3 linked regions of the Homo sapiens genome follow. The protein of the gene in region 1 interacts with the protein of each later gene in a pairwise test. Each region holds a gene or a part of one and is shown in the gene's direction. Other genes may lie near its edges.

What was found.
Region 2: the proteins of KLKB1 (region 1) and SLFN12 interact in binary tests that used the Homo sapiens proteins (3 or more experiments, as listed by UniProt).
Region 3: the proteins of KLKB1 (region 1) and VKORC1L1 interact in binary tests that used the Homo sapiens proteins (3 or more experiments, as listed by UniProt).

Annotation. Positions count from the first base shown.
Region 1 is NC_000004.12:186,230,491-186,237,516, forward strand, and holds part of KLKB1 (plasma kallikrein isoform 1 preproprotein), read left to right. Parts: intron 1-1,636; coding exon 1,637-1,799; intron 1,800-3,461; coding exon 3,462-3,568; intron 3,569-6,290; coding exon 6,291-6,450; intron 6,451-7,026. UniProt on the Homo sapiens protein: Participates in the surface-dependent activation of blood coagulation. Activates, in a reciprocal reaction, coagulation factor XII/F12 after binding to negatively charged surfaces.
Region 2 is NC_000017.11:35,429,489-35,436,783, reverse strand, and holds the start of SLFN12 (ribonuclease SLFN12), read left to right. Parts: upstream 1-4,283; 5' UTR 4,284-4,596; intron 4,597-6,170; exon of another isoform or gene 6,171-6,313; intron 6,314-7,295. UniProt on the Homo sapiens protein: Ribonuclease which is part of an E2/17beta-estradiol-induced pro-apoptotic signaling pathway.
Region 3 is NC_000007.14:65,876,060-65,883,085, forward strand, and holds part of VKORC1L1 (vitamin K epoxide reductase complex subunit 1-like protein 1), read left to right. Parts: intron 1-7,026. UniProt on the Homo sapiens protein: Involved in vitamin K metabolism. Can reduce inactive vitamin K 2,3-epoxide to active vitamin K, and may contribute to vitamin K-mediated protection against oxidative stress.

The DNA of each region.
Region 1 (7,026 bases):
AAAGCCACCATCATTATGAGATAAATTATATAATAGTACTTTACATAGGCTCCAAAATACAGCACAGACACAGCTATCATTGTCATGGTCATCATTATCATCATGATCACCAACTTATGAGGATAAGCAAGAACACCTACTAGAAGTTTCTTTCCATTCAGCAACAAAATTGGTGTCTTTCTAGTCACTCCCTTCCCTGACTGTCACATAGCAGTTCACAGAGGCTCAGTTGCAGAATGAGAAGCTCTGGGCCAGGACCTGCCATTGTATGCATCCTTGCATGGGAACTGGGGGCTGGAAGAGGAGTGACTGCTTGATAATTATGAGTCAGTCAAAACCACCAACTGTCTGAAAAAAATAGGCCTTTTTGTAACTAGTATTGTCACTAAACCAACTCCTCCATGTTTTGTGCATACATGAAATCTAGGCAATACACTTGTATTCCCAAAAGCTTCCACTTGAAGAGATCTGTGCTCTTTCCAAATATAAACCTTACCCGAGAGGTGGTCATCTTGGCCACACCTCAGAGAGGGAGAGAGGCAGTCTTGTTGGGTTGGGTGGTCATAATGGGGCTCAGGGCCAAATCCCCAGGGGGTAGGATAGTGCAGAGAAGATGGCACTCTCCAGTGCTTAATAAAATGCACGTGGTCTAAGCTGCCCACTCCCTCAAAGGCAATAAAAAATAGGTACTATTTAAATTGAAGAGTAACTACTGCCCCAGGGAATGGACAGGTTGTCATTGGAATAGCCATGGTTAATGGTCCCAGTTGACAACTGAAATGAATGTGCTACCTGAACAGGAAAGCTTATTAACCAGATTTCAAAGACAGTCTTTCCCGGTAAATCCAAATTTACAAATTAAAGCCAGTAAAGACACCGAATTCTCTAATAATATGTGGGGTGCAGTATATTTTAGAGCTGGGAATAATTCCAAACAGCAAATAGTTCAAAATTTATTTTCAATTTAGCATATGCATGCATTTGCTTAAACTGTCTTAAAAATGAGTAAAAAATACTGTCAGTTTGTTTCAATCATACTGAGATGAGGAACAATGTTTAGCATTGCATGCTAGAAAAGGACACAGGATTGGGAGTCAGGGCTGGGTGACCGTCACAGGACTTTCACTAACTGTGTGGATCTTGGGCAAGTCTGTGTGCCCTGAGACTCAGTTATTTAACTTTCTTTTAAAAAACATAGTCCAGATGCAGATAACAAAGCCTGCCTCTAATTTCCCTTACAGAATTGTGAGAAGCTGGTGGAGATGTTTGTTACAAAAGTGTTTTGAAAATAGAGCAAATATTATTCTTTTTAAGGCATGATGTTTTCATAGCATGTCAGGCAACAGGAAAAAACTAAGTTAGGATTTTATTTTATTGTGGGGAATTTATGTGCAAATTATTGTGCAATTTAATGAAAATAAGCCAATGTTTTATACAGAAGTACCCAGAAAATTAAATAACACTATACATTGTTCAAATAGTTGCCTTAATATATTTTATTTTCTCAGCATAATTAGAGTTGTATTATACAGGTCTTTGAGTAGTCAGTCAGTGGGAGAAGTTAAGACAACAGATATCTTTTTATTAAAATTATTATATGAATTATCGCAAATTAATTTTTATGGTTCTGTCACAGGATGTCTGACTCAACTCTATGAAAACGCCTTCTTCAGAGGTGGGGATGTAGCTTCCATGTACACCCCAAATGCCCAATACTGCCAGATGAGGTGCACATTCCACCCAAGGTGTTTGCTATTCAGTTTTCTTCCAGCAAGTTCAATCAATGACATGGAGAAAAGGTAAAAGTTGGTATTTCATTATTGGAGAAGCTGTTTTTCAAAACTGAATCAGTTTTGTGCAGAAAGGTGTAGTATAACTGAGAGTTCTTCCTCACACGGGGTTCAAGGACCAGCTTCAGCAAAATCCCGTCAAGTGGTTCTTACAAATGCAGATTCCTAGGCCACAACCCAGATCTGCTGAACCAAAGTTTCTTGTGACCAGGAATCTGCATTTTAAACAATCACTGTGTTTCTTTAAAGTAGTAGAAGCTAGTCATTTTCTATTCAAAGCCTCAAAATGCTTGAATATCATTGGGCTAAGGGATTGTCTCAAGAAAGAGTCTAACAGGTGCACATTTCATCTGAATAAAGAAACAGATTTAACTGTGTGACCCATGATCACATTAGCGGATAGCACAGTCCAAAGAAAATAACATAAGACAAGCATTTTGCTGAGAATGTAATTGAGAAAGATCTAGAACTTGTGATTTTGGGACAGGGCAGTTCTAAATGGGGCCTATAGTGAGCCAGTTTGGGCACCTGTGGCATGATGCTATGTATGGTGTGTGTGTGTATGTGTGCTTGTGCTTGTGTGAATATGTATTATTAACTGGAAATTTGTAAAAGTATTGGAAAAATAGTACTTACGATTTTGTGTGTGTGTGTGATGGAGTCTCGCTTTGTAGCCCAGGCTGGAGTGCAGTGGCGTGATCTCGGCTCACTGCAACTTCCACCTCCCAGGTTCAAGCGATTCTCCTGCCTCAGCCTCCCAAGTAGCTGGGATTACAGGCACGCACCACCACGTCCAGCTAATTTTTGTAGTTTTAGTAGAGACGGGGTTTCACCACATTGGCCAGGCTGGCCTTGAACTCCTGACCTCGTGATCCACCTGCCTCTACCTCCTAATGTGCTGGGATTACAGGCATGAGCCACCGCACCCAGCGGTAATTACAATTTTTATTAGGTCAGAGAGATGCTTATTAATCACGAGCCACAGTTTCATCTTAATGATTTTTCCTTTTGATTAATATCCAGAGTAAGCTTTTCTTTGTTGTTCCCATTTCCATGTTCATAACTCTTTACTCATCTTCACTCTATGTGAGTTTACCAACTAGAAATTGGATAGTCATTCTCTGATCCCACATGTTAAACTTGTAGAGAAAACTCAGATTGTATGTGAGGATCATCATATTAAAAGTGGAGGAAGGTTCTAGAATTCTTATAAATAATGAAATTAACATGAAGGTGGACATCTAAGACAGAGGGAAGTCTTCCATTAAGTGCAGACTACAAGGAGTTAATAAGCAAGATGAACACGATATACAAATCCAGCTCTTATCACTAAGTTAACTTTTTAAGTAAATGAAAGTATTTGCAAAAATAATTACCAATTGAGAACATAGTTGCCTGAAAGTTTAAGAACACAGGAAAAATCATTAACTCTTTAATATGGTTGATTTCCTGTACTTAAAAAATGTGAGTGTAAAGAAAACGCAGTGATGGAGTTAGATATTATGGGGTGTTATAAAATTAGCTCTAAGAGTGTTCTTTCCAGCAAGTATTGGGGAAGCTATATTATTTTCCTTATTCCTGGTTTTATTTGTTAGTGTGTAGAAAATGCTAGACATTTCCTCAATGTATGTTTATTATTCTACTTCCTAAGTAAAGCTACTTTTAAAATAGGTTTGGTTGCTTCTTGAAAGATAGTGTTACAGGAACCCTGCCAAAAGTACATCGAACAGGTGCAGTTTCTGGACATTCCTTGAAGCAATGTGGTCATCAAATAAGTGGTAAGTTGTGAATTTCTTAGCTACATTTGAGTTAATATTGGATCTCGCTTAGAACAGCTTTTGCTCAAAGTTTGTACTGCTACAGCTTTTTGGAAGGCATCACTCATAAAGATAGGAGATGGGGCAGTATTCTGGACACAAAAGAGGGACCCATATTCATCTGGACACTTCTATTGTCTTTATAAATCAACACATACTTAATGAGCCTCTATTATTTATGAGGTTAGCGCTCAAGTGTAAGATTTGCAGAAAATGAATCCAAATAATTGTGTCTCGTTTCCAGATAAGAATTTTTAAGAAAACACAAGGGAACATCTCTCTCAAGTTCACTTGAGGGTAATTTTTACATCAGTGATTCTCAACCAGCAGTGATTTTGTCTCTTCCACTGGGGACATTTGACAATGTCTGGAGACATTTTTGGTGGCTACAACTAGGGAGGATGCTATTAGCATTTACTAAGTAGAGGCCAGAATGTTTGAATGCTGACCAACATTCTACAAGGCACAGGGCAGTCGTCCACAGCAAATAATTTTCTGGCCCAAAACGTCAACAGTGCTGACATCAAGAAACTCTGTGATATACCACTAGGCCCAAATTGAAGAACTGAGTTCTGCAAATCTTGCTAAGAATAATACTTCCTAAAGGAAACTTGAGGACTAGGATGCTAGAGAACTTTGATTCTGACATCTGAAGCTACTGATGTCTTGGGAAACAGTTTCCAATGCTATCCTAATAAATTTAAGACAAATGAACTATTTCTCAAACATGACTGGGACTGATAAGAAAGTGAAAAGTGCTGAAAAGATTCAACTGATGGGTTGTCAGAATCTTAAAATAACTGCTGTTATTCTATGTATGACTATATATCATTACTATTTTATTTTCATTATGCACAATTAATTTTGTAGGTTCAAATTTCAGATGTTTTTAAATTTGTCATCCTTTCCTCCCTCATTGATATCACCTCTTCAATACGTACACACTTTGAGCCTGCTGTTTGCATTTTAACCAGTTATCAAAGGATGGCAATGCCTTCATTATAAATGTGGGCCTGACTTAGCCAGTATAATAGGTGTAGTCTACGTGAGGTGGAGTACATTTCCTATTTTAAAAGATCAATTTTTATGTTAATCCAATTTGGTATAAATTATTCGAGTAAGTGCTATTTCTGATTGTTGTATCTTGTAGCAAAATTTAAAGAAAAAGTAATTTGTGCCTTTCTCAATATTCCTGTTATTGTTCATGTATTCTAAAACTCACTGTTACTCACTTAGCTTGCTTTTAATGTTTTTTAAAGTGAAAAATTGTTCCCAAGTACATAAAATCTCTACACTCAAGAACAATTCTAGTCAAAAGCATTTAGAGCTTCCGTATGAACACTTAAAGAGTTTTTATTTGTAAGAGTCGCATCCCAACTCTTAGCCTGTTCTTTTCTCACATGCAGAAAAATAGGAAAGAGACTTCGTTTCCACAGTCTGCAAATTCCTGTGTTTAAGAACCACAGTGAATAATCCACCTCCCTGCCCAACTCATCGTACTGTCATATAGTTTTCCTGACAGTTTGTGTATTTTCTGTCTTTCCCACCCTTAAATTTAGTTTTATGACTTCAACCATACTTCTTAGGAGTGGAAAGGTATCTGTAGTAGATTATGGTTTATTCCACATAATCTTGGGGAATAAAACTTTAAAAAAGTATACAGTTTATACTTCTGGTTACATTACTTCCTTAACCAAAAGTCTAACCAAGAAATTTGAATCTTTAAAAAAAAAAGAGGCCGGGCGCGGTGGCTCACGCCTGTAATCCCAGCACTTTGGGAGGCCGAGACGGGCGGATCACGAGGTCAGGAGATCGAGACCATCCTGGCTGACACGGTGAAACCCCGTCTCTACTAAAAATACAAAAATTAGCCGGGCGTGGTGGCGCGCGCCTGTAGTCCCAGCTACTCGGGAGGCTGAGGCAGGAGAATGGCGTGAACCCGGGAGGCGGAGCTTGCAGTGAGTCGAGATCGCGCCACTGCGCTCCAGCCTGGGCGACAGAGCGAGACTCCGTCTCAAAAAAAAAAAAAAAAAAAAGAGCCTAATTTTGCTTCACTGTCTGTGAAAAGAATTATCTGTATCTTTTGCATGTAAGACAAATCTCAATGAAAAGGGTGCTTAAATAGAAGTTAACACTATTTTAAAGCAAGAATGGAAGTGGTTTCATCATGCGTAAACAACAACTCTCCACATTTTGTAATGATTGATCTGGATGCAATTTGTCATCAGACAGGAGAAGTCGAAAGCAAAGAAATAACACTGGGAGATAGAGAAGCTCTTTCATTCAATGCGAAAGGTCAAAGGCACATCAGTTTCTTTAATAATGCAAACCTCAGCACACATTATCAGTGTCCTCATTATTATTGCCTTGTTTATTTCCCACTGCTCATTGATAATTTCAACGTGAAATTTACCTGTATTGCTGCATGCATCTTGCAGTTTAAGAAGTGAAGTAACCCAATTTCAAAGCTAGTGCTTTAGGGAAAATATTGGATTGTATTTACTTCAAGCAGAGTTCGATAATTTATGTACATAATAAAAATTTTAAATCCCTTAGTTAATATAGCAGTTGCCAAAACTGGGCTATTATCATTCTAAACTACCAACCCAAATGGTAGTGGGTATCTAATCTACCTCTAGAAAGAAAATGGACTGTATTTGCTCTATGTATTTTTCTTGTACAGCTTGCCATCGAGACATTTATAAAGGAGTTGATATGAGAGGAGTCAATTTTAATGTGTCTAAGGTTAGCAGTGTTGAAGAATGCCAAAAAAGGTGCACCAGTAACATTCGCTGCCAGTTTTTTTCATATGCCACGCAAACATTTCACAAGGCAGAGTACCGGTGAGTACAATTCAAGGTGTGTGTTCTTTGTATTGGTGCCTCCAGGATTTCACTGTATTCTTCTTAACCTCTTTTGTTCCCAAACTAAAAACCAAACAGGGCTTTTATTCTAACCACTTTCCTCATTTACTTACTCTATTTTATTTTTTTATCTTTTATTTATTTATTTATTTATTGAGATGGAGTCGCGCTCTGTCGCCCAGGCTAGAGTGCAGTGGCGTAATCTCGACTCACTACAACCTCCGCTTCCCGGGTTCAAGCGATTCTCCTGCCTCAGCCTCCCGAGTAGCTGGGATTACAGGCGTCCGCCACCATGCCTGGCTAATTTTTGTATTTTTAGTAGAGTCGGGGTTTTACTATGTTGGTCAGGCTGGTCTCGAACTCCTGATCTTGTGATCCACCCACCTCAGCCTCCCAAAGCGCTGGGATTACAGGCATGAGCCACTGCGCCTCGCCCTTCATTTTTTAATTAAATAATTCATTTAATTTCATTTGTTTCTCTACTCTTTTCCCCTGGCATGTAATTGTACCGCATCTTCAAAGCCTGACATCCTCTTCCCCTACTTCTCCAAAGCT
Region 2 (7,295 bases), on another chromosome or scaffold:
CTTTGTCATATCTTTGACACTATTGAAGAGGACTGGCCTATTATTTTGCAGAGTATCTGATTTTGGGTCATTTCATGTGTTCTCATGATTAGATTCAGGTTATGCATTTTTGGCATGAATTCCATAGAAGGGCTGTTACGGTTCTCAGTTCACGGTATTAGAAGGCACTTGATAGTGATTAGTTCCATTCCTGATGATGTTAACTCTGATCATTTGGATAAAGTGGCGTCTGCCAGGTTTCCCTACTGTGCAGTTACAATTTGCTTTTTGTAATTAATAAAGTGTGTGTGTGTGTGTGTGTGGAGGGGGGGTGTTTTTGCTTCTGAACGCATAATATTTGAGATTTTTTTCTAATTAAAAAGTAATTATTCAAAGAGTTCAGAGAACTGATACTGATCACATTCTTTGACCCCACATGCAAATACATTATAAACTAGTAATAAAACGGTAACTAGAAAAATGTTCATATCTTTTGGAATTAAAAAAGTGTTTAACTCGTGGATCAAAGCAGAAATTCTGTAACCATTGTCACAGCAGGTTCTAACAAGCAAGTTTAAGGAGGAGAGAATTTCAGTCCTAGAGAATTTCAGTCTTATTCAAATGCTTTCCTAGAAAGAGGAAACAGTTCCTAACTAATTTCATGAGGCTGGCATAATCTTGATAACAAGTCTGATAGGTAAAGTATGAAAGGAAAATTGCAGGTCACTCAATTATCACTCAAATATCTACATGAAAAATTCTAAACAAAATTTTAGCAAACAAAATCCAACAATTTGTAAAAGTGATAATACACCACGACCAAGGTGGTTCAAGTCAGGAATTCAACGTTGATTTTGGCGTTAAAAAATCAATCATCAGGCCCAGTGAGGTGGCTCACTCCTGTAATCCCAGACTTTCTGGAGGCTGAAGGAGGAAAGATCCTTCAGGCCAGAAGTTTGAGTCTGCACTGAGCTGTGACTGCATCACCGCACTCTAGCCTGGGTGCCAGTTTGAGACCCTGTCTCCAAGAAAAAAAAATTAATCAGTGTAATTCACCACAGATTAAGAGTTCAAAAGAGAAAAATCACATGATCATCTGAATAGAGGAAAAAGCTTTTGATAAAGTTCAACATCCATTCATAATAAGGACTCTCAGCAACTTAGAAGTATAAAAACACTTTTGGAAATCAACAAAGGGAATTTACAGCATGAACAAACAGCAAGCCAGCATGGTGGCTCACACCTGTAATCTCAGCACTTCCAGAGGCCAAGGCAGGAGAATCACTTGAGCCCAGGGGTTAGAGACAAGCCTTGGCAACATAGCAAGATCCTGGCTCTACAAAAAATAAAATAAAATGAAATAAAATTTAAAAATTAGCTGGGTTTGGTGGTGTGTGCCTGTAGTCCCAGCTACTGGGAGGCTGAGGTGAGAGGATCACTGGAGCCCAGGAGGTGAAGGCTGCAGTGGGCTAAAAACAACCAGAACAACCCCCCAACCCCCTCCCCGCAAAACACTATAAAGAATAGCAACACAAGGTTCAATGTAAACTTTGATATGGTGTTTTACCTCTGAGGAGAGGCTTATTGTTAATATTCTTTAGCCGTGTAAGGGGTTCACAGATGTTCATACTTTTGTTCTTTATACCTTATATGTATTCTATAAATATTGTTTCTACTCAATAGTTAATAAAAACATAATTTAAAAGTTCTGTGAATGTTTTTACTCTGCTCACTTTTGAGGGGCCTTTTGGGATATGCATTTTCTATTCCAAGTTGATCTGATATGTCATGCCTGCCACACACATTCCCATGGGAACAACTTCTTAATGTCTTTTGTTTCTGCCTTGGAAGCCATCCTGGTGCTCTGGGAAAATCCCTGCACTAGCATTTTCTTTTTCTTTTCTTTTCTTTTTTTTCTTTTTCTTTTTTTGAGATAGAATCCCTTGCTCTGTCTTTCAGGATGGAGTGCAGCCGTGTGATCTTGGCTCACTGCAACCTCTGCCTCCATCCAAGCGATTCTCATGCCTCAGCGCCCCCACACCCTCCCCAGTCCACCACAGTAGTTGGGACTACCAAGGCGCGCACGACTATGCCCTCTCACCATATTGCCCTGGCTGGTCTCCAACTCCTGAGCTCAGGCAATCCACCCACTTCGGCCTCCCAAAGTGCTGGGATTATAGACGTGAGCCACCGCACCCGGCCTGCGCTAGCTTTTTTTCTTTGTTTCTTTCTCTTTCTTTCTTTCTTTTTCTTTCTCTCTCTCTCTCTTCTTTCTTTTTTTCTTTCCCTCCCTCCCTCCCTTCCTTTCTCTCTTCTCTCCCTTCCTTCCTTCCTTCCTTCCTTCCTTCCTTTCCTTCCTTCCTTCCTCTTTCTTTCTTTCTTTCTTTCTTTCTTTCCCTTCCTTCCTTCCTTCCTTCCTTCCTTCCTTCCTTCCTTCCTTTCTCTCTCTCTCTCTTTCTTTCTTTCTTTCTTCTTTCCTTTTTTTTCCCCGAGACAGAGTTTTGCTCTTGTTGCCCAGGCTGCAGTGCAGTGGCATGATCTCAGCACACTGCAACCTCCGCTTCCCAGGTTCAACTGATTCTCCTGCCTCTGCCTCCCTAGTAGCTGGGATTACAGGGGTCTGCCACCACGCCCGGCTAATTTTTTTTGTATTTTTAGTGGAGACGGGGGTTTCACTACGTTGGCTGGGCTGGTCTCGAACTCTTGACTTCAGGTGATCCACCCACCTCGGCCTCCCAAAGTCCTGGAATTATGGGCATGAGCCACTGCTCCCAGCCGGCACTAGCATTTTCTAAGCCAATGACTGAAGAATAGTTTTTTAACTTCGGTGAGACTGTATCCATAGAGCTGGCGTCTGGATCAGATGAGAAGAAGAAAAGCGCAGCTATGTGCTTTCAATATATACGTTATTTAATGTGAATAGGTACTCTTCCTAGGTACCTTAAGATTTTAGAATAGGCAGTAGGCAGTTAATGCAGTCCAGAGTGGGGTAGGTGGAGCTTGCGGAGAAGGAGCAACTCAGACTTGCACATTCCCCTGTGATGAGTCATCGTGGCCTGTGTGCATTTCAAAAGCTATGTACTGAGACACCAATTCTTAGACAAGTTAGCAGGAAAAACATGTATTACCATAATTATCATAATAAGGGGGCTAAAGGAAAGCAAAGTGGCAGGAGGACTGTATCCGGCCAGACTAGCCTTTGGAGCATCCCAATAAAGGAATCTCCCAAATGGCCCCAAGATGCTCCCTACACTGCCAGGGGTAGGTATTTGAATCTGTCTGTCCTGGAGCAATCCGCTCCTTGCACCTTTGTCCTCTCCTGTCCATCCACAGCTGCCCTGGCCTGGTTCCTGGGGGCAACCGTGCTTTTAAGCAAGGGGGCAGCAGTGCTGCTCTGGGAATGCGAGTACAGCTGGAAAGGTTGAGTCACCCCTTTAGGGGCATGGTAAGAATGCCTGGTATTTCTTCAATTTTGATGAACCAAAATAGTGACAATTGCCCAAAGGCGCAGAGTCGATAATAAAGAGTGCGGACACTTCCGGAGCGCCAGCTGCCCAATAGAAATGCAGGCCACGCTGGGGAAGTGTGGAGCCGCAGCCCAGGATGGGGAGGGCCGGAAAACAGAAAAGGATTCGCGTTCTTTTTACTCTGTGGAGAGTGAGCCCGCGGACTGTAGCCTGGGCCTCGCCAAGTTCCTTTGTTCTTTGTTTTCTTTAAATTACCTTTTTTCTTTTTGTCTTAAAAAATACACATGGGTGAAAAAGAAACGAGAGCTCCCTAGAGATCACTCAGAGCTGTTTTCGTGGGTTTTTAACTTCCAGTTGCTCAAGGGTCCACGCTGGCATCTGGGGTGTGCTCGCACCTGCGAAGAATCCAGCTTCTAGGGAGCACCGCGAGCTGGTAAGTTGGTCCTGCTCCATCGCTAAACCTTCCAGCCTTAGTTTTTCATTTCTGGGGAGTCTGCTGGCTCGGGAGGAGGTGGGGCACTGGTAACACAACCCCACCACTCCCGGGAAGATCCCCGCACCCCCATCCCGGTCTGCTTTCTCTCCCTTCTGAAGCAGGAGAATAAGGGTCTGGAGGAAAATCCCAACTTTCCACAAACTTCCTTTGTAGCCCCTCCTTTTCTACATGGCAGATGAAAAACTGAAAATACCTCTGATTGGTCCCCTCCCGCAACCAATCAGACTGGTCTCCAGGGCCAAGTCTTCATGTGCATAGGAATGTAACTTTGTAACTTCGCTTTCTGCGTCCAATCAGATGTTTTCATAGGGCATAACTTTGTAACTTCACTTCAGCCTCCCATTGATCGCTTTCTGCAACCATTCAGACTGATCTCGGGCTCCTATTTCATTTACATTGTGTGCACACCAAGTAACCAGTGGGAAAACTTTAGAGGGTACTTAAACCCCAGAAAATTCTGAAACCGGGCTCTTGAGCCGCTATCCTCGGGCCTGCTCCCACCCTGTGGAGTGCACTTTCGTTTTCAATAAATCTCTGCTTTTGTTGCTTCATTCTTTCCTTGCTTTGTTTGTGTGTTTGTCCAGTTCTTTGTTCAACACGCCAAGAACCTGGACACTCTTCACTGGTAACATATTTTGGCAAGCCAACCAGGAGGTAAGCCCAAAGTCTGGGATTTATTTTTCTCCTTTCCCTTTTCCTTTCTGCTCCATACAGGTAAATCTCTCTCTTTCTCTTTTCCTTTCCAACGTGGGATCCTTGGTGGGTAGCGCCTAGACACGGAGGCGACTGCAGGTTTCTGGCCGGGGGCTACTCTCCAGTGCTGCCTTGAAGGCCAAGGAGTGAATGGGGATAGTTGCCCTGCCCAGAAGCGGGAAGGGCTCTTTTCTGTCTTTTCTGGTTGTGGTCCCTGATCCCTATGTGTGACGCAGCTTCTCCAGGGCGAACTCACACGTGTTTCAGGTGACTTAAACCTTCTTTCCTTATGTTAAATTCTTCCCTTCCCCTACTCTACTGGCTAAGGTTAAAAGAAACCCACCTAGCCTCCATTTCATATCATTAAAGTTCATGACTATCACTCTAGTGGAATGGGAACCATGGGAAAGCATGGCCTTATCAAATTATAAGGATGCTAGAAGTCAAGGCCTTCATCCAGAGACAAAAGGAAAGCTCACAGTAGGCCATCCCCTCTGGAGGGAAAACATGTAAAGTGGCACTGGTGACCACCTAAGGTCAGAGACGTCTGACGCTCTAAGATTGGACCCTAAAGGGGGATGCTCTGGAGGATCCTTTGGACCTCAGCCTCTCCAAGGGGGTTCCTTTGGTAGAGGTTCTTAGGCCTAGTACTAAGCCCTCCTTAGAATTTTCTCTTCCGGTTGCAGTAGTGTTTGGCCTCAATATTGTTTGGAATCTGGAGTTTGCTGTTGAATGGTAAAGTGGGATGGAGTTGCATGTATGCAGGCTCTTGTGCTGCTGTTCTAAGCAGGGTTGTGTCGGGTTAAAGTGTGATGTTCTCCTTTGGTGCTGTTTGGCCTCAGCGTTCTTTGAAGTGCGAGGAAGTTTGACCTTTAAAAATCAAACTGCCATGGAAACCGCTGACTTATAAATTGCTAAAGTTGTTTATAACCAATGTTTGGTTTCTCAAATCCATATTCCTGGGAAGACAATCAAAGCTTCAGGTACATTTGGCTACCCGATGGGCCATTTAAACATTTACAAAGGGATTTTATTCAATGTCACTTTCAATGCATGTTTTCTTGTTGTATAAAAGCTTTTCCCATGATTATGCTACAGTGTATTTTCACCAGGTAAAGAAAGCTTTTTATGGTTCACTGAGAACAATCAACCCCTTCACAACCTAGAACCCATAGGATAGATGTTCTCAGAACATCTACTGTAAAGGCCATAGTTACACAACAGACTTTAAATTCTTTTGTGAAAGTTATGATAGAATTGGCTGAACAGAGAAGTATCTGTGCAGCTGCTGGCACTTAGAGTCTATGGAGAAATACATTAAATGAAGATTAAGAGATTCAGTTGTAGGGGATTAATGAGGAGATTGTTTACTTAAGTTGGTAGATTCTTTATTTAGTTCATTATTTGATCTATTTAATTTTAACTGGTTTGGTTTATGGGAACCCTGGGCAAGGAGCATCCTCCAAACTCTTGGTATTATCCTCCCAATAGTCATCATAATAATAGGCTCCCTGGTGCACTGTATTCTCTCAAAGGTTTTCGATGTTTGCATGCAGCCATCTCTAGAATGTCAAATGGTCTCTCTTCAACTGGAATGATGAGAAGTGAAACAAATATGCGACCATGAGGACACTGTAACCTATGGATGGTGTGCTGAGACTGGAAACCCAAAATGATGGTAACTGAGAGCGGCGCTAAGGCCTTACGTTTTGGTTACATTCTCACCTAAGTGAGAACCTGAACAAAAAGGGGGAATTTTAAAAAACAAAATTGTGAAAGGCCAGTGTTTTGGACTGAGCTCATGGCCCCAACAGACCAAACCAAACCAAAATGGAGTTGCTCATTCTAAGACTTTAAGGAAACACATAGATCCTAGAACAGACCAAGTTTTTGTTTTTCTCCTGCAAACAGAATGTTTCAGTGAGCAGGACACCCTCCACCGGTAACACTTTCCTGTCTCTGTAGCAACTTCTAATAAACTGCAGGCTGTTGAGGACTTCAGAATGGTGGACTTGGAAGCTATAGGTCGGGTGGAACTTTTGCTCCTGCATGGGCTGGGGAGCAGCCCAGAAAATTTAAAGCATTACCAGAAAATTTAAAGAGCTGTGGGGCCAGTGAGCCAGGGATCTGCAGTGTTCAAGCAGAGCTAGAGAGGCAGGGAGGGCAGAGTGCTCTATGGTCAGGCCAGGCTTGGTGGGTGTCCAGACCTCCCAGGGTTATCCATCCTCCTGGAGTCCTGAACATGCAGGGAGTTGGGGAATAGGTTCTTTAGGTGAAATGCGACCAGGCACTGATGAACTGCATTGCTAGATCCTAAAAGAAAAACCAAGCACCCTCATGCCCTGCTGGTTTATTATCTAGAAGGCGGGAAGGATGAGAGCAGTGCTGTCCTGAACTAAATGCAAAGTGACATCCTAGGAGGGCAAAGAGTGTTGCATGATTTTTGTTTCCCAGGAGGTAGCTCTTACAACTTCTGTCCCACCCTGTGGGCAGTTCCTACTAACCTGCTGTTCTGACATAACTCTAAGGAGATCTGAATGCTGTCTCCTTTCCCATTAAAGATAGCCAACAACAAAGCCTAAATAGTGAGTTCAGGTCTGATAGAATTTCCCCTATAGTCAAAAGTATAAAGGATTTCAGTGGAAACATCTAACCTGTAA
Region 3 (7,026 bases), on another chromosome or scaffold:
AGTTCCAGATTTTATATTTCTAAAGAAATATTTCACCGAAATTAGTAGGCTACAATAGAAATGCTGATTTTTCAATTCTACCATGTACAGCCAGTAAAAACAATAACACACCACTATCTCCTGTCACCATCATTTCATTTAACAAAAGGATATTTCCATTCAAACAATTTGAAAGAACAGAATCTCTCAGAATAAAATATTTTTAAATGGAATCATTTAGCTATATGGAAAAGTTTACTTTCAGACCAGCCTGGCCAACATGCTGAAACCCCGTCTCTACTAAAAATACAAAACAAGCTGGGCGTGGTAGCATGCACCTGTAATCCCAGCTACTCGGGAGGCTGAGGCAGGAGAATCACTTGAACCTGGGATGCAGAGGTTGCAGTAAGCCAAGATCGCGCCATTGCACTCCAGCCTGTGTGACAGAACGAGACTCTGTCTTTAAAAAAAAAAAAAAAAAGTTTACTTTCGTGTCCTTACTTTTTCCCATTTTCCCATAAATCGGTGAAAACTCTGCTGCAAACCTGCACCAGCCTGCCAGCTAACATTCAGTTAGCAGTCCCTGCCCCCTTGGTTTGGTACACTGAGCTCAAATCTAAGGGATCTGGGTGGGCTTCCACCTCTCCCAGTTCTTAGGCTTGTGGCCTTATCTTCATGGTGCCTCAGTTTCTTATGTTAAATAGGGCTTTTAACACCTACTTAGGGCCTGGTGCAGTGGCTCACACCTGTAATCCCAGCAGTTTGGGACGCTGACACCTGGCAGACCTCTTGAGCTCAGGAGTTTCAGACCAGCCTGGGCAACAGGGCAAAACCGTGTCTTTACAAAAAATACAAACGTTAACCGGGCATGGTGGCGCATGCCTGTATTTCCAGCTTCTTGGGAGGCTGAGGTGTGAGGATCACTTGAGCCTGAGAGGCTGAGGTCTGCAGTGAGCCATGATGGTGCCACTGCACTCCAGCCTGGGTGGTAGAGAGAGACCCTGTCTCAAAAAAAGAAAAACAAAAAAACCTACTTTGCCAGATTAGTGTTACGATGAAAAGTGATACATGTATGTTCCTGAAATAAAGCCTGTCCTCAGTTATAGCTGTTACCATTGATTGGAGATGTTCTTTTTTTTCCAGTGTTTGATAATAAATGCCTTTAAGTATAAGTTTCTTGTACATACTTGTTTATATGTTTAAACATTAATTGTTTTAATGTAGTTTATTGCTGACTTTATAGCATAGTATAAAGATGTGTTCATTTAAAACAATTTTGAAGTTGTGCAAGAGAAACTAATGCAGAATATTCTTTTTTTTTTTTTTGATGGAGTCTCGCTGCTCTGTCACCCGGACTGGAGTGCAGTGGCATGATCTCAGCTCACTGCAACCTCCACCTCCCGGGTTCAAGCGATTCTCCTACCTCAGCCTCCCAAGGAGCTGGGATTACAGGTGCCCACCACCATGCCCGGCTAATTTTTGTATTTTTAGTAGAGACAGGGTCTTGCCATGTTGGCCAGGCTGGTCTTAAACTCCTGACCTCAGGTGATCTGCCTGCCTCAGCCTCCGAAAGTGCTGAGATTATAGGCATCAGCCACCGTGTCCAGCTGTAATATGCAGAATATTCTATGTAGGTATTTTCTATATATAAGACCCCCTCTAAGAAGGGTTTCTATGTAAGAATAGTACAAATGATCTGGAAAGGTTAATAGGCTTGACAAATCTATGTTTCTTAAAACTGTAAAAATAGTCTGGTTGTCCTATGGTCTATGTATAGAACATATACCATAGGGGATTGGTTTCAGGACCCCTGTTTTTACTGAGATCCTGGCATACTCAAGTCCCCACTGTGGGCCCTGCAGAACCTGAATGTGAAAATTTGGGCCTCCATATATGCAGGTTTCGGTCTGCATTTGGTTGAAAAAGATCCACGTATAAGTGAGCACACACAGCTTAAACCCGTGTTGTTCAAGGGTCCACTGCATTTGAAAATCAAGTCCATAAAAAAGTTGCCTTATTTTACAAAATGTCGGATTACTACCTCTCCCATATCTTAAAAAAAAAGTACCATCTATTTACTACCCCATTGAGATAATAAAACTTTTAGAATTAGAATAGAACCTAGGGCTGGGCATAGTGGTTCACGCCTGTAATCCCAGCACTTTGGGAGGCTGAGGTGGGTGGATCACCTGAGTTCAGGAGTTTGAGACCAGCCTGGCCAATATGGTGAAACCCCTTGTCTACTAAAAATACAAAAAATTAGCCGGGCATGGTGGTGGGCACCTGTAATTCCAGCTACTCGGGAGGCTGAGGCAGGAGAATCACTTGAACCCGGGAGGTGGAGGTAGCAGTAAGCCGAGATTGTGCCACTGCCCTCCTGCCTGGGCAATAAGAGGGAAACTCTGTCTTACAAAAAAAAAAAAGAACCTAGAAGTATTTACTGCTCTTTGCTTTGTCTGAGACTCAGAGGTTAAGTGACTTGCCCAAGATAGCACAGGTAGTAGCAAATTGAGACTTGACACCTGGCTTCCAGAGTACTTATTTAAAGTCCCCTTTGCACCCCCATTTTAAAAATTAAATTCTTGGCTGGACGCAGTGGCTCACGCCTGTAATCTCAGCACTTTGGGAGGCCGAGGTGGGCGGATCACGAGGTCGGGAGATCAAGACCATCCTGGCTAACATGGTGAAACCCCGTCTCTACTAAAAATACAAAAAAAATTAGCCAGACATGGTGGCACACGCCTGTAGTCCCAGCTACTTGAGAGGGGCTGAGGCAGGAGAATCACTTGAACCCGGGAGGTGGAGGTTGTGGTGAGCTGAGGTCGTGCCACTGCACTCCAGACTGGGTGACAGAGTGAGACTCTGTCTCAAAAAAAAAGAAAAATTAAATTCTTGTCTAGGTAAGGCATTCGCTGCTTCGGATTTGAAAGATAACAAAGCATGTACAGTGAAAAGTCTCCTTCATATCCCTTCCACCAGACAGTTCTCCCGCTCAGTAGACCGCTGTGAAACTTTTCAGAGCCGTTTGACACATAGACAAACATCCACGTGACCATATGATTCCTCCCTTTTTTTAACATGGAAGTATCACGTATGCATCCTTATTGATAGCCTGCTTTTTGCTTGGCATTCGTTCCATTGCTCCCATACTTTAAATGCTTATGTTCATATTTAGTGAAATGTTAATAACTGCTAGTACGTAAAAGAGAATTTGTTCTAGTAGTTTTGACTAACCAAGATAAATTTCAGAAATAAAATTCTTAACATTATCATTGTTTCTTGGTATGGAAATTTCAGAAGCAGGTTGAACTGAAAAGAGTCCAAGAGGAATAGAGAAATATCACAAGGAAGTGAATCTGGACTGTAGTAGAGATAAATGTTAATACTTACAGATAATGCTTACTATGTGCTAGGCAGTGTTCTAAATGTTTTGCATACATTATTGAAGTCTCTCAAGAGTCCCATGAGGCAGGTAGCTTTTATCACCATTTTACACATGAGAAAACTGAGCAACGCAGACTAACACTTGATCCAGGTAGTACAGTGGCAGAGGCCTGATTCTAACCCAGGCAGTCTGGCTCAAGAGTCCAAGCTCTTTACCACTACTCTTTCGTCTTCCTTTCTTCCTTTCCCTCCCACCCTCCTTCTTCCTTTCCTTTCTTTTCTCTCTTTCTTTTCCTTCCTTCTTTTCTTTCTTTTTCCTTCCTTCCTTCCTTTTCTTTATTTTTCCTTCTTCCTTCCTCCTTCGTTCCTTGCTTCCTTCTTTCCTTTTCTTTTTCTTTCCTTTCCTTTTTTTTTCTTTCCTTTCTTTTCTTTCTTCTTTAACTTTTTGAGACATTGTCTCACTCTGTCTCCCCAGGCTGAGTGCAGTGGTGCAGTCATGGCTCACTGCAGCCTCAACCTCCCTGGGTCAAGTGATCCTCCAACCTCAGCTTCCTGAGTAGCTGGGTCTACAGTTGCACACCCCACCATGCCTAGCTAATTTTTTCTATTTTTCATAGTGACGAGGTCTCACTTTGTTGCCTGAGTTGGTCTCAAACTCCTGGCCTCAAGCAGTCTTCCCACTTGGCCTCCCAAAGTGCTGAGATTACAGGTGTGAGCCACCACGCCCAGCCTTTTACCACTACTTTAAATTCCATTTAGATCTAATATTGATAGAGTGATAACCATATCAACCAGATTTTTTAAATATGCAAACAATGGTGCCAGTTTCTGTATCTATGTGACAAAAATATATAGAGTTTGTGGTATCACTTTTACCTGTTTAGAGCACTCTTTGGAAAGGCAGGGAAATTACTGTGAAGGTATTGGTATTCCAGAAGTAAGTTCCTGGAGTGTTTGCCTTCTAAGGTGTGAGGACGTGGTTTGTCACACCCAGTTAACTAACAGATAGACGGTGTAGTGAGCTGTCCGGAAGACTTAGCAGGTTAGCCTAGGGAGGAAGGAGAAAGGGGTTCTGGGCACATGGAGGGAGGGGGAGGGAAAAGAGTTTGTTTGAATCTGTCCTAGATTGGGGTAGCTTTTTCGGAGGGAGGCCTTGTCGTGTGGACCTGCTGCATATAAAGACAGGAGAATTGGACCTGAGGTGTGGTGCTAGCTAAAGCGCCACACAGATCTGGGAATTTAAGAGGAGTTCATTTCCTCAATCATTAGGAAGAACTTGAAAGGGTAGCAAACTGTGGTCATTTGAGAAGAACAGCAAGTGGTCATATTTGAATGTAACATATTCAACTGGGTTGGGAAAGAACCAGAATCTAGATCTTGCCCATAGCAAGTGCAAAACCAGGCGTTCTTATAAACCATGTACTCTTGTAAACACTGATAAGACATAGCACTGAGTCCTGAGCTTTTCTTCTATAAAGTTATTGTACAGGTTGAGGATCCCTAATCCGAAAATCCAAAATCTGAAATGCCCCTGTGAGCATTTCCGTTGAGTGTCATTGGCACTCAAAGTTTTGGATTTTGGACCATTTCAGATTTTGAACTTTCAGATTTGGGATGCTCAACCGGTATATAATGCACATATTCCCAAATCTGAAAAAATCCCAAATCCAAAGCATTTCAGCTCCAAAGTGTTTCAGATAAGGAATATTCAACCTGTACTACATTGTACTAGGCTTGTATTAGATTCCCAGTTTTCAAAATTTGTATCTCAGAATCCCTGTTCTCTGTCAATGAAACAGGGATTTCATACACCTTTGATTCACATTTTAATGTTTTAAGTTTAAAATATTATAAATGTTTATACACAGTCAAATGAATCTCATGCTAAATTTTAATATATTAGAGACAACTGATTTGTCTGCCAGGTTATCTCAAGAGAGTTAATACTGAGTGAAAACAAGTGAGAACCCTAAAAGATTACATACTGTATGATTGCATTTATGTAACATTATTGAAATAACAAACCTGCAGAGATGGAGAACAGATTTAGTGGTTGCTAGGAGTTAGGAATGGGAGGTGAGGGGTGGTGTGGTTATAAAGTGGTAGCATGAGGGAGCTGTGTAGGGATGGAACAGTTCAATGTCTCAGGTGTGATTATACAAAGCTGCAAATGTGATAAAAACTTCATACAACCACACACACACATACTGCATATAAATCCTAGCGTACTCAAGTCCCATTTTGCATACAAAACTGGTGAAACCTGAATAAACTCAGGATTGGAGGAATTTGGGCGAGGGTACTTGGGACCTCCCTGTGTACTTTTTTGTAAATTCCTGTGATTTATAATTATAGTAATTTTAAAATAAAAAGTTGGCCAGGCACAGTGGCTCATGCCTGTAATCCCAGCACTTTGGGAGGCTGAGGCGGATGTATCACGTGAGGTCAGGAGTTCAAGACCAGCTTGGCCAACATGGTGAAACCCCATCTCTACTAAAAATACAAAAATTAGCCGGGCATGGTAGTGGGTGCCTGTAGTCTGAGCTACCTGGGAGGCTGAGGCAGGAGAATCACTTGAACCTGGGAGGCAGAGGTTGCAGTGAGCTGAGATCATGCCACTGCACTCCAGCCTGAGCGACAGAGCAAACTCTGTCTCAAGAAAATAAAATAAAATAGACTGGGTGTAGTGGCTCACGCCTGTAACCCCAGCACTTTGGGAGACTGAGGCGGGTGGATCACCTGAGGTCGGGAGTTGGAGACCAGCCTGACCAACATGGTGAAACCCCATCTCTACTAAAAATACAAAATTAGTCGGGCATGGTGGTGCATGCCTGTAATCTCAGCTACTCGGGAGGCTGAGACAGGAGAGTTGCTTGAACCCAGGAGGCAGAGGTTGCAGTGAGCCAAGATCACGCCATTGCACTCCAGCCTGGGCAACAAGAGTGAAACTCCGTCTGAAAAATAAAATAAAATAAAATAAAAAGTAAAAAAGCAAAAAAAAAAAAAAAGTGCATTTAGAATATTTGAGAGAAAATAAGCAAAAGGAAGAAAATGTAAATTATCTATAATGCTTACACCCAGGACAATAATCCTTGGAATAGAGTGTCTCACTTTGTGTATAGAAATGAAACTTTTAAAATGCCATTTTATTTTTTAATTAAAATTTTTTCTTTCCTTTTTTTTCCTCCTCAGAGTTAGAAAGGATAAAAATGTTATTGATTAGTAAGACTGTAGCTTTATGTTGATATTTTGAAATTTTAGGCTAGTGCTTGTTTGTTCATGTAACATATAAGCACATTCAGTACTATTAGAACTGTTGCATTATGCAATAACATGACTGCCTAATGCATATATCAGGATTAGTACATATTGTAAAGTTTTTATTTTTTACCAAAATGTTTACGACTACCAAGTATTCATTCCTTAACACTATTACATAATTAATTTAGAAATGTTTTACTTTTAAAACTTCTGGACAGGTGTAATTAAATCCTTAGATAGCGTTAATGTACTATTTAAAAAACACACACAAAACATTATCATTGGCAAAACATGCTTTATCATCTATTCATCTTTGTGAATCCGGTTTTTCTTGATACCATGCCATCAAAACAAAACAAATTTGACATAAGACTGCCCAATCATCCATAATTTAAAGTTGGT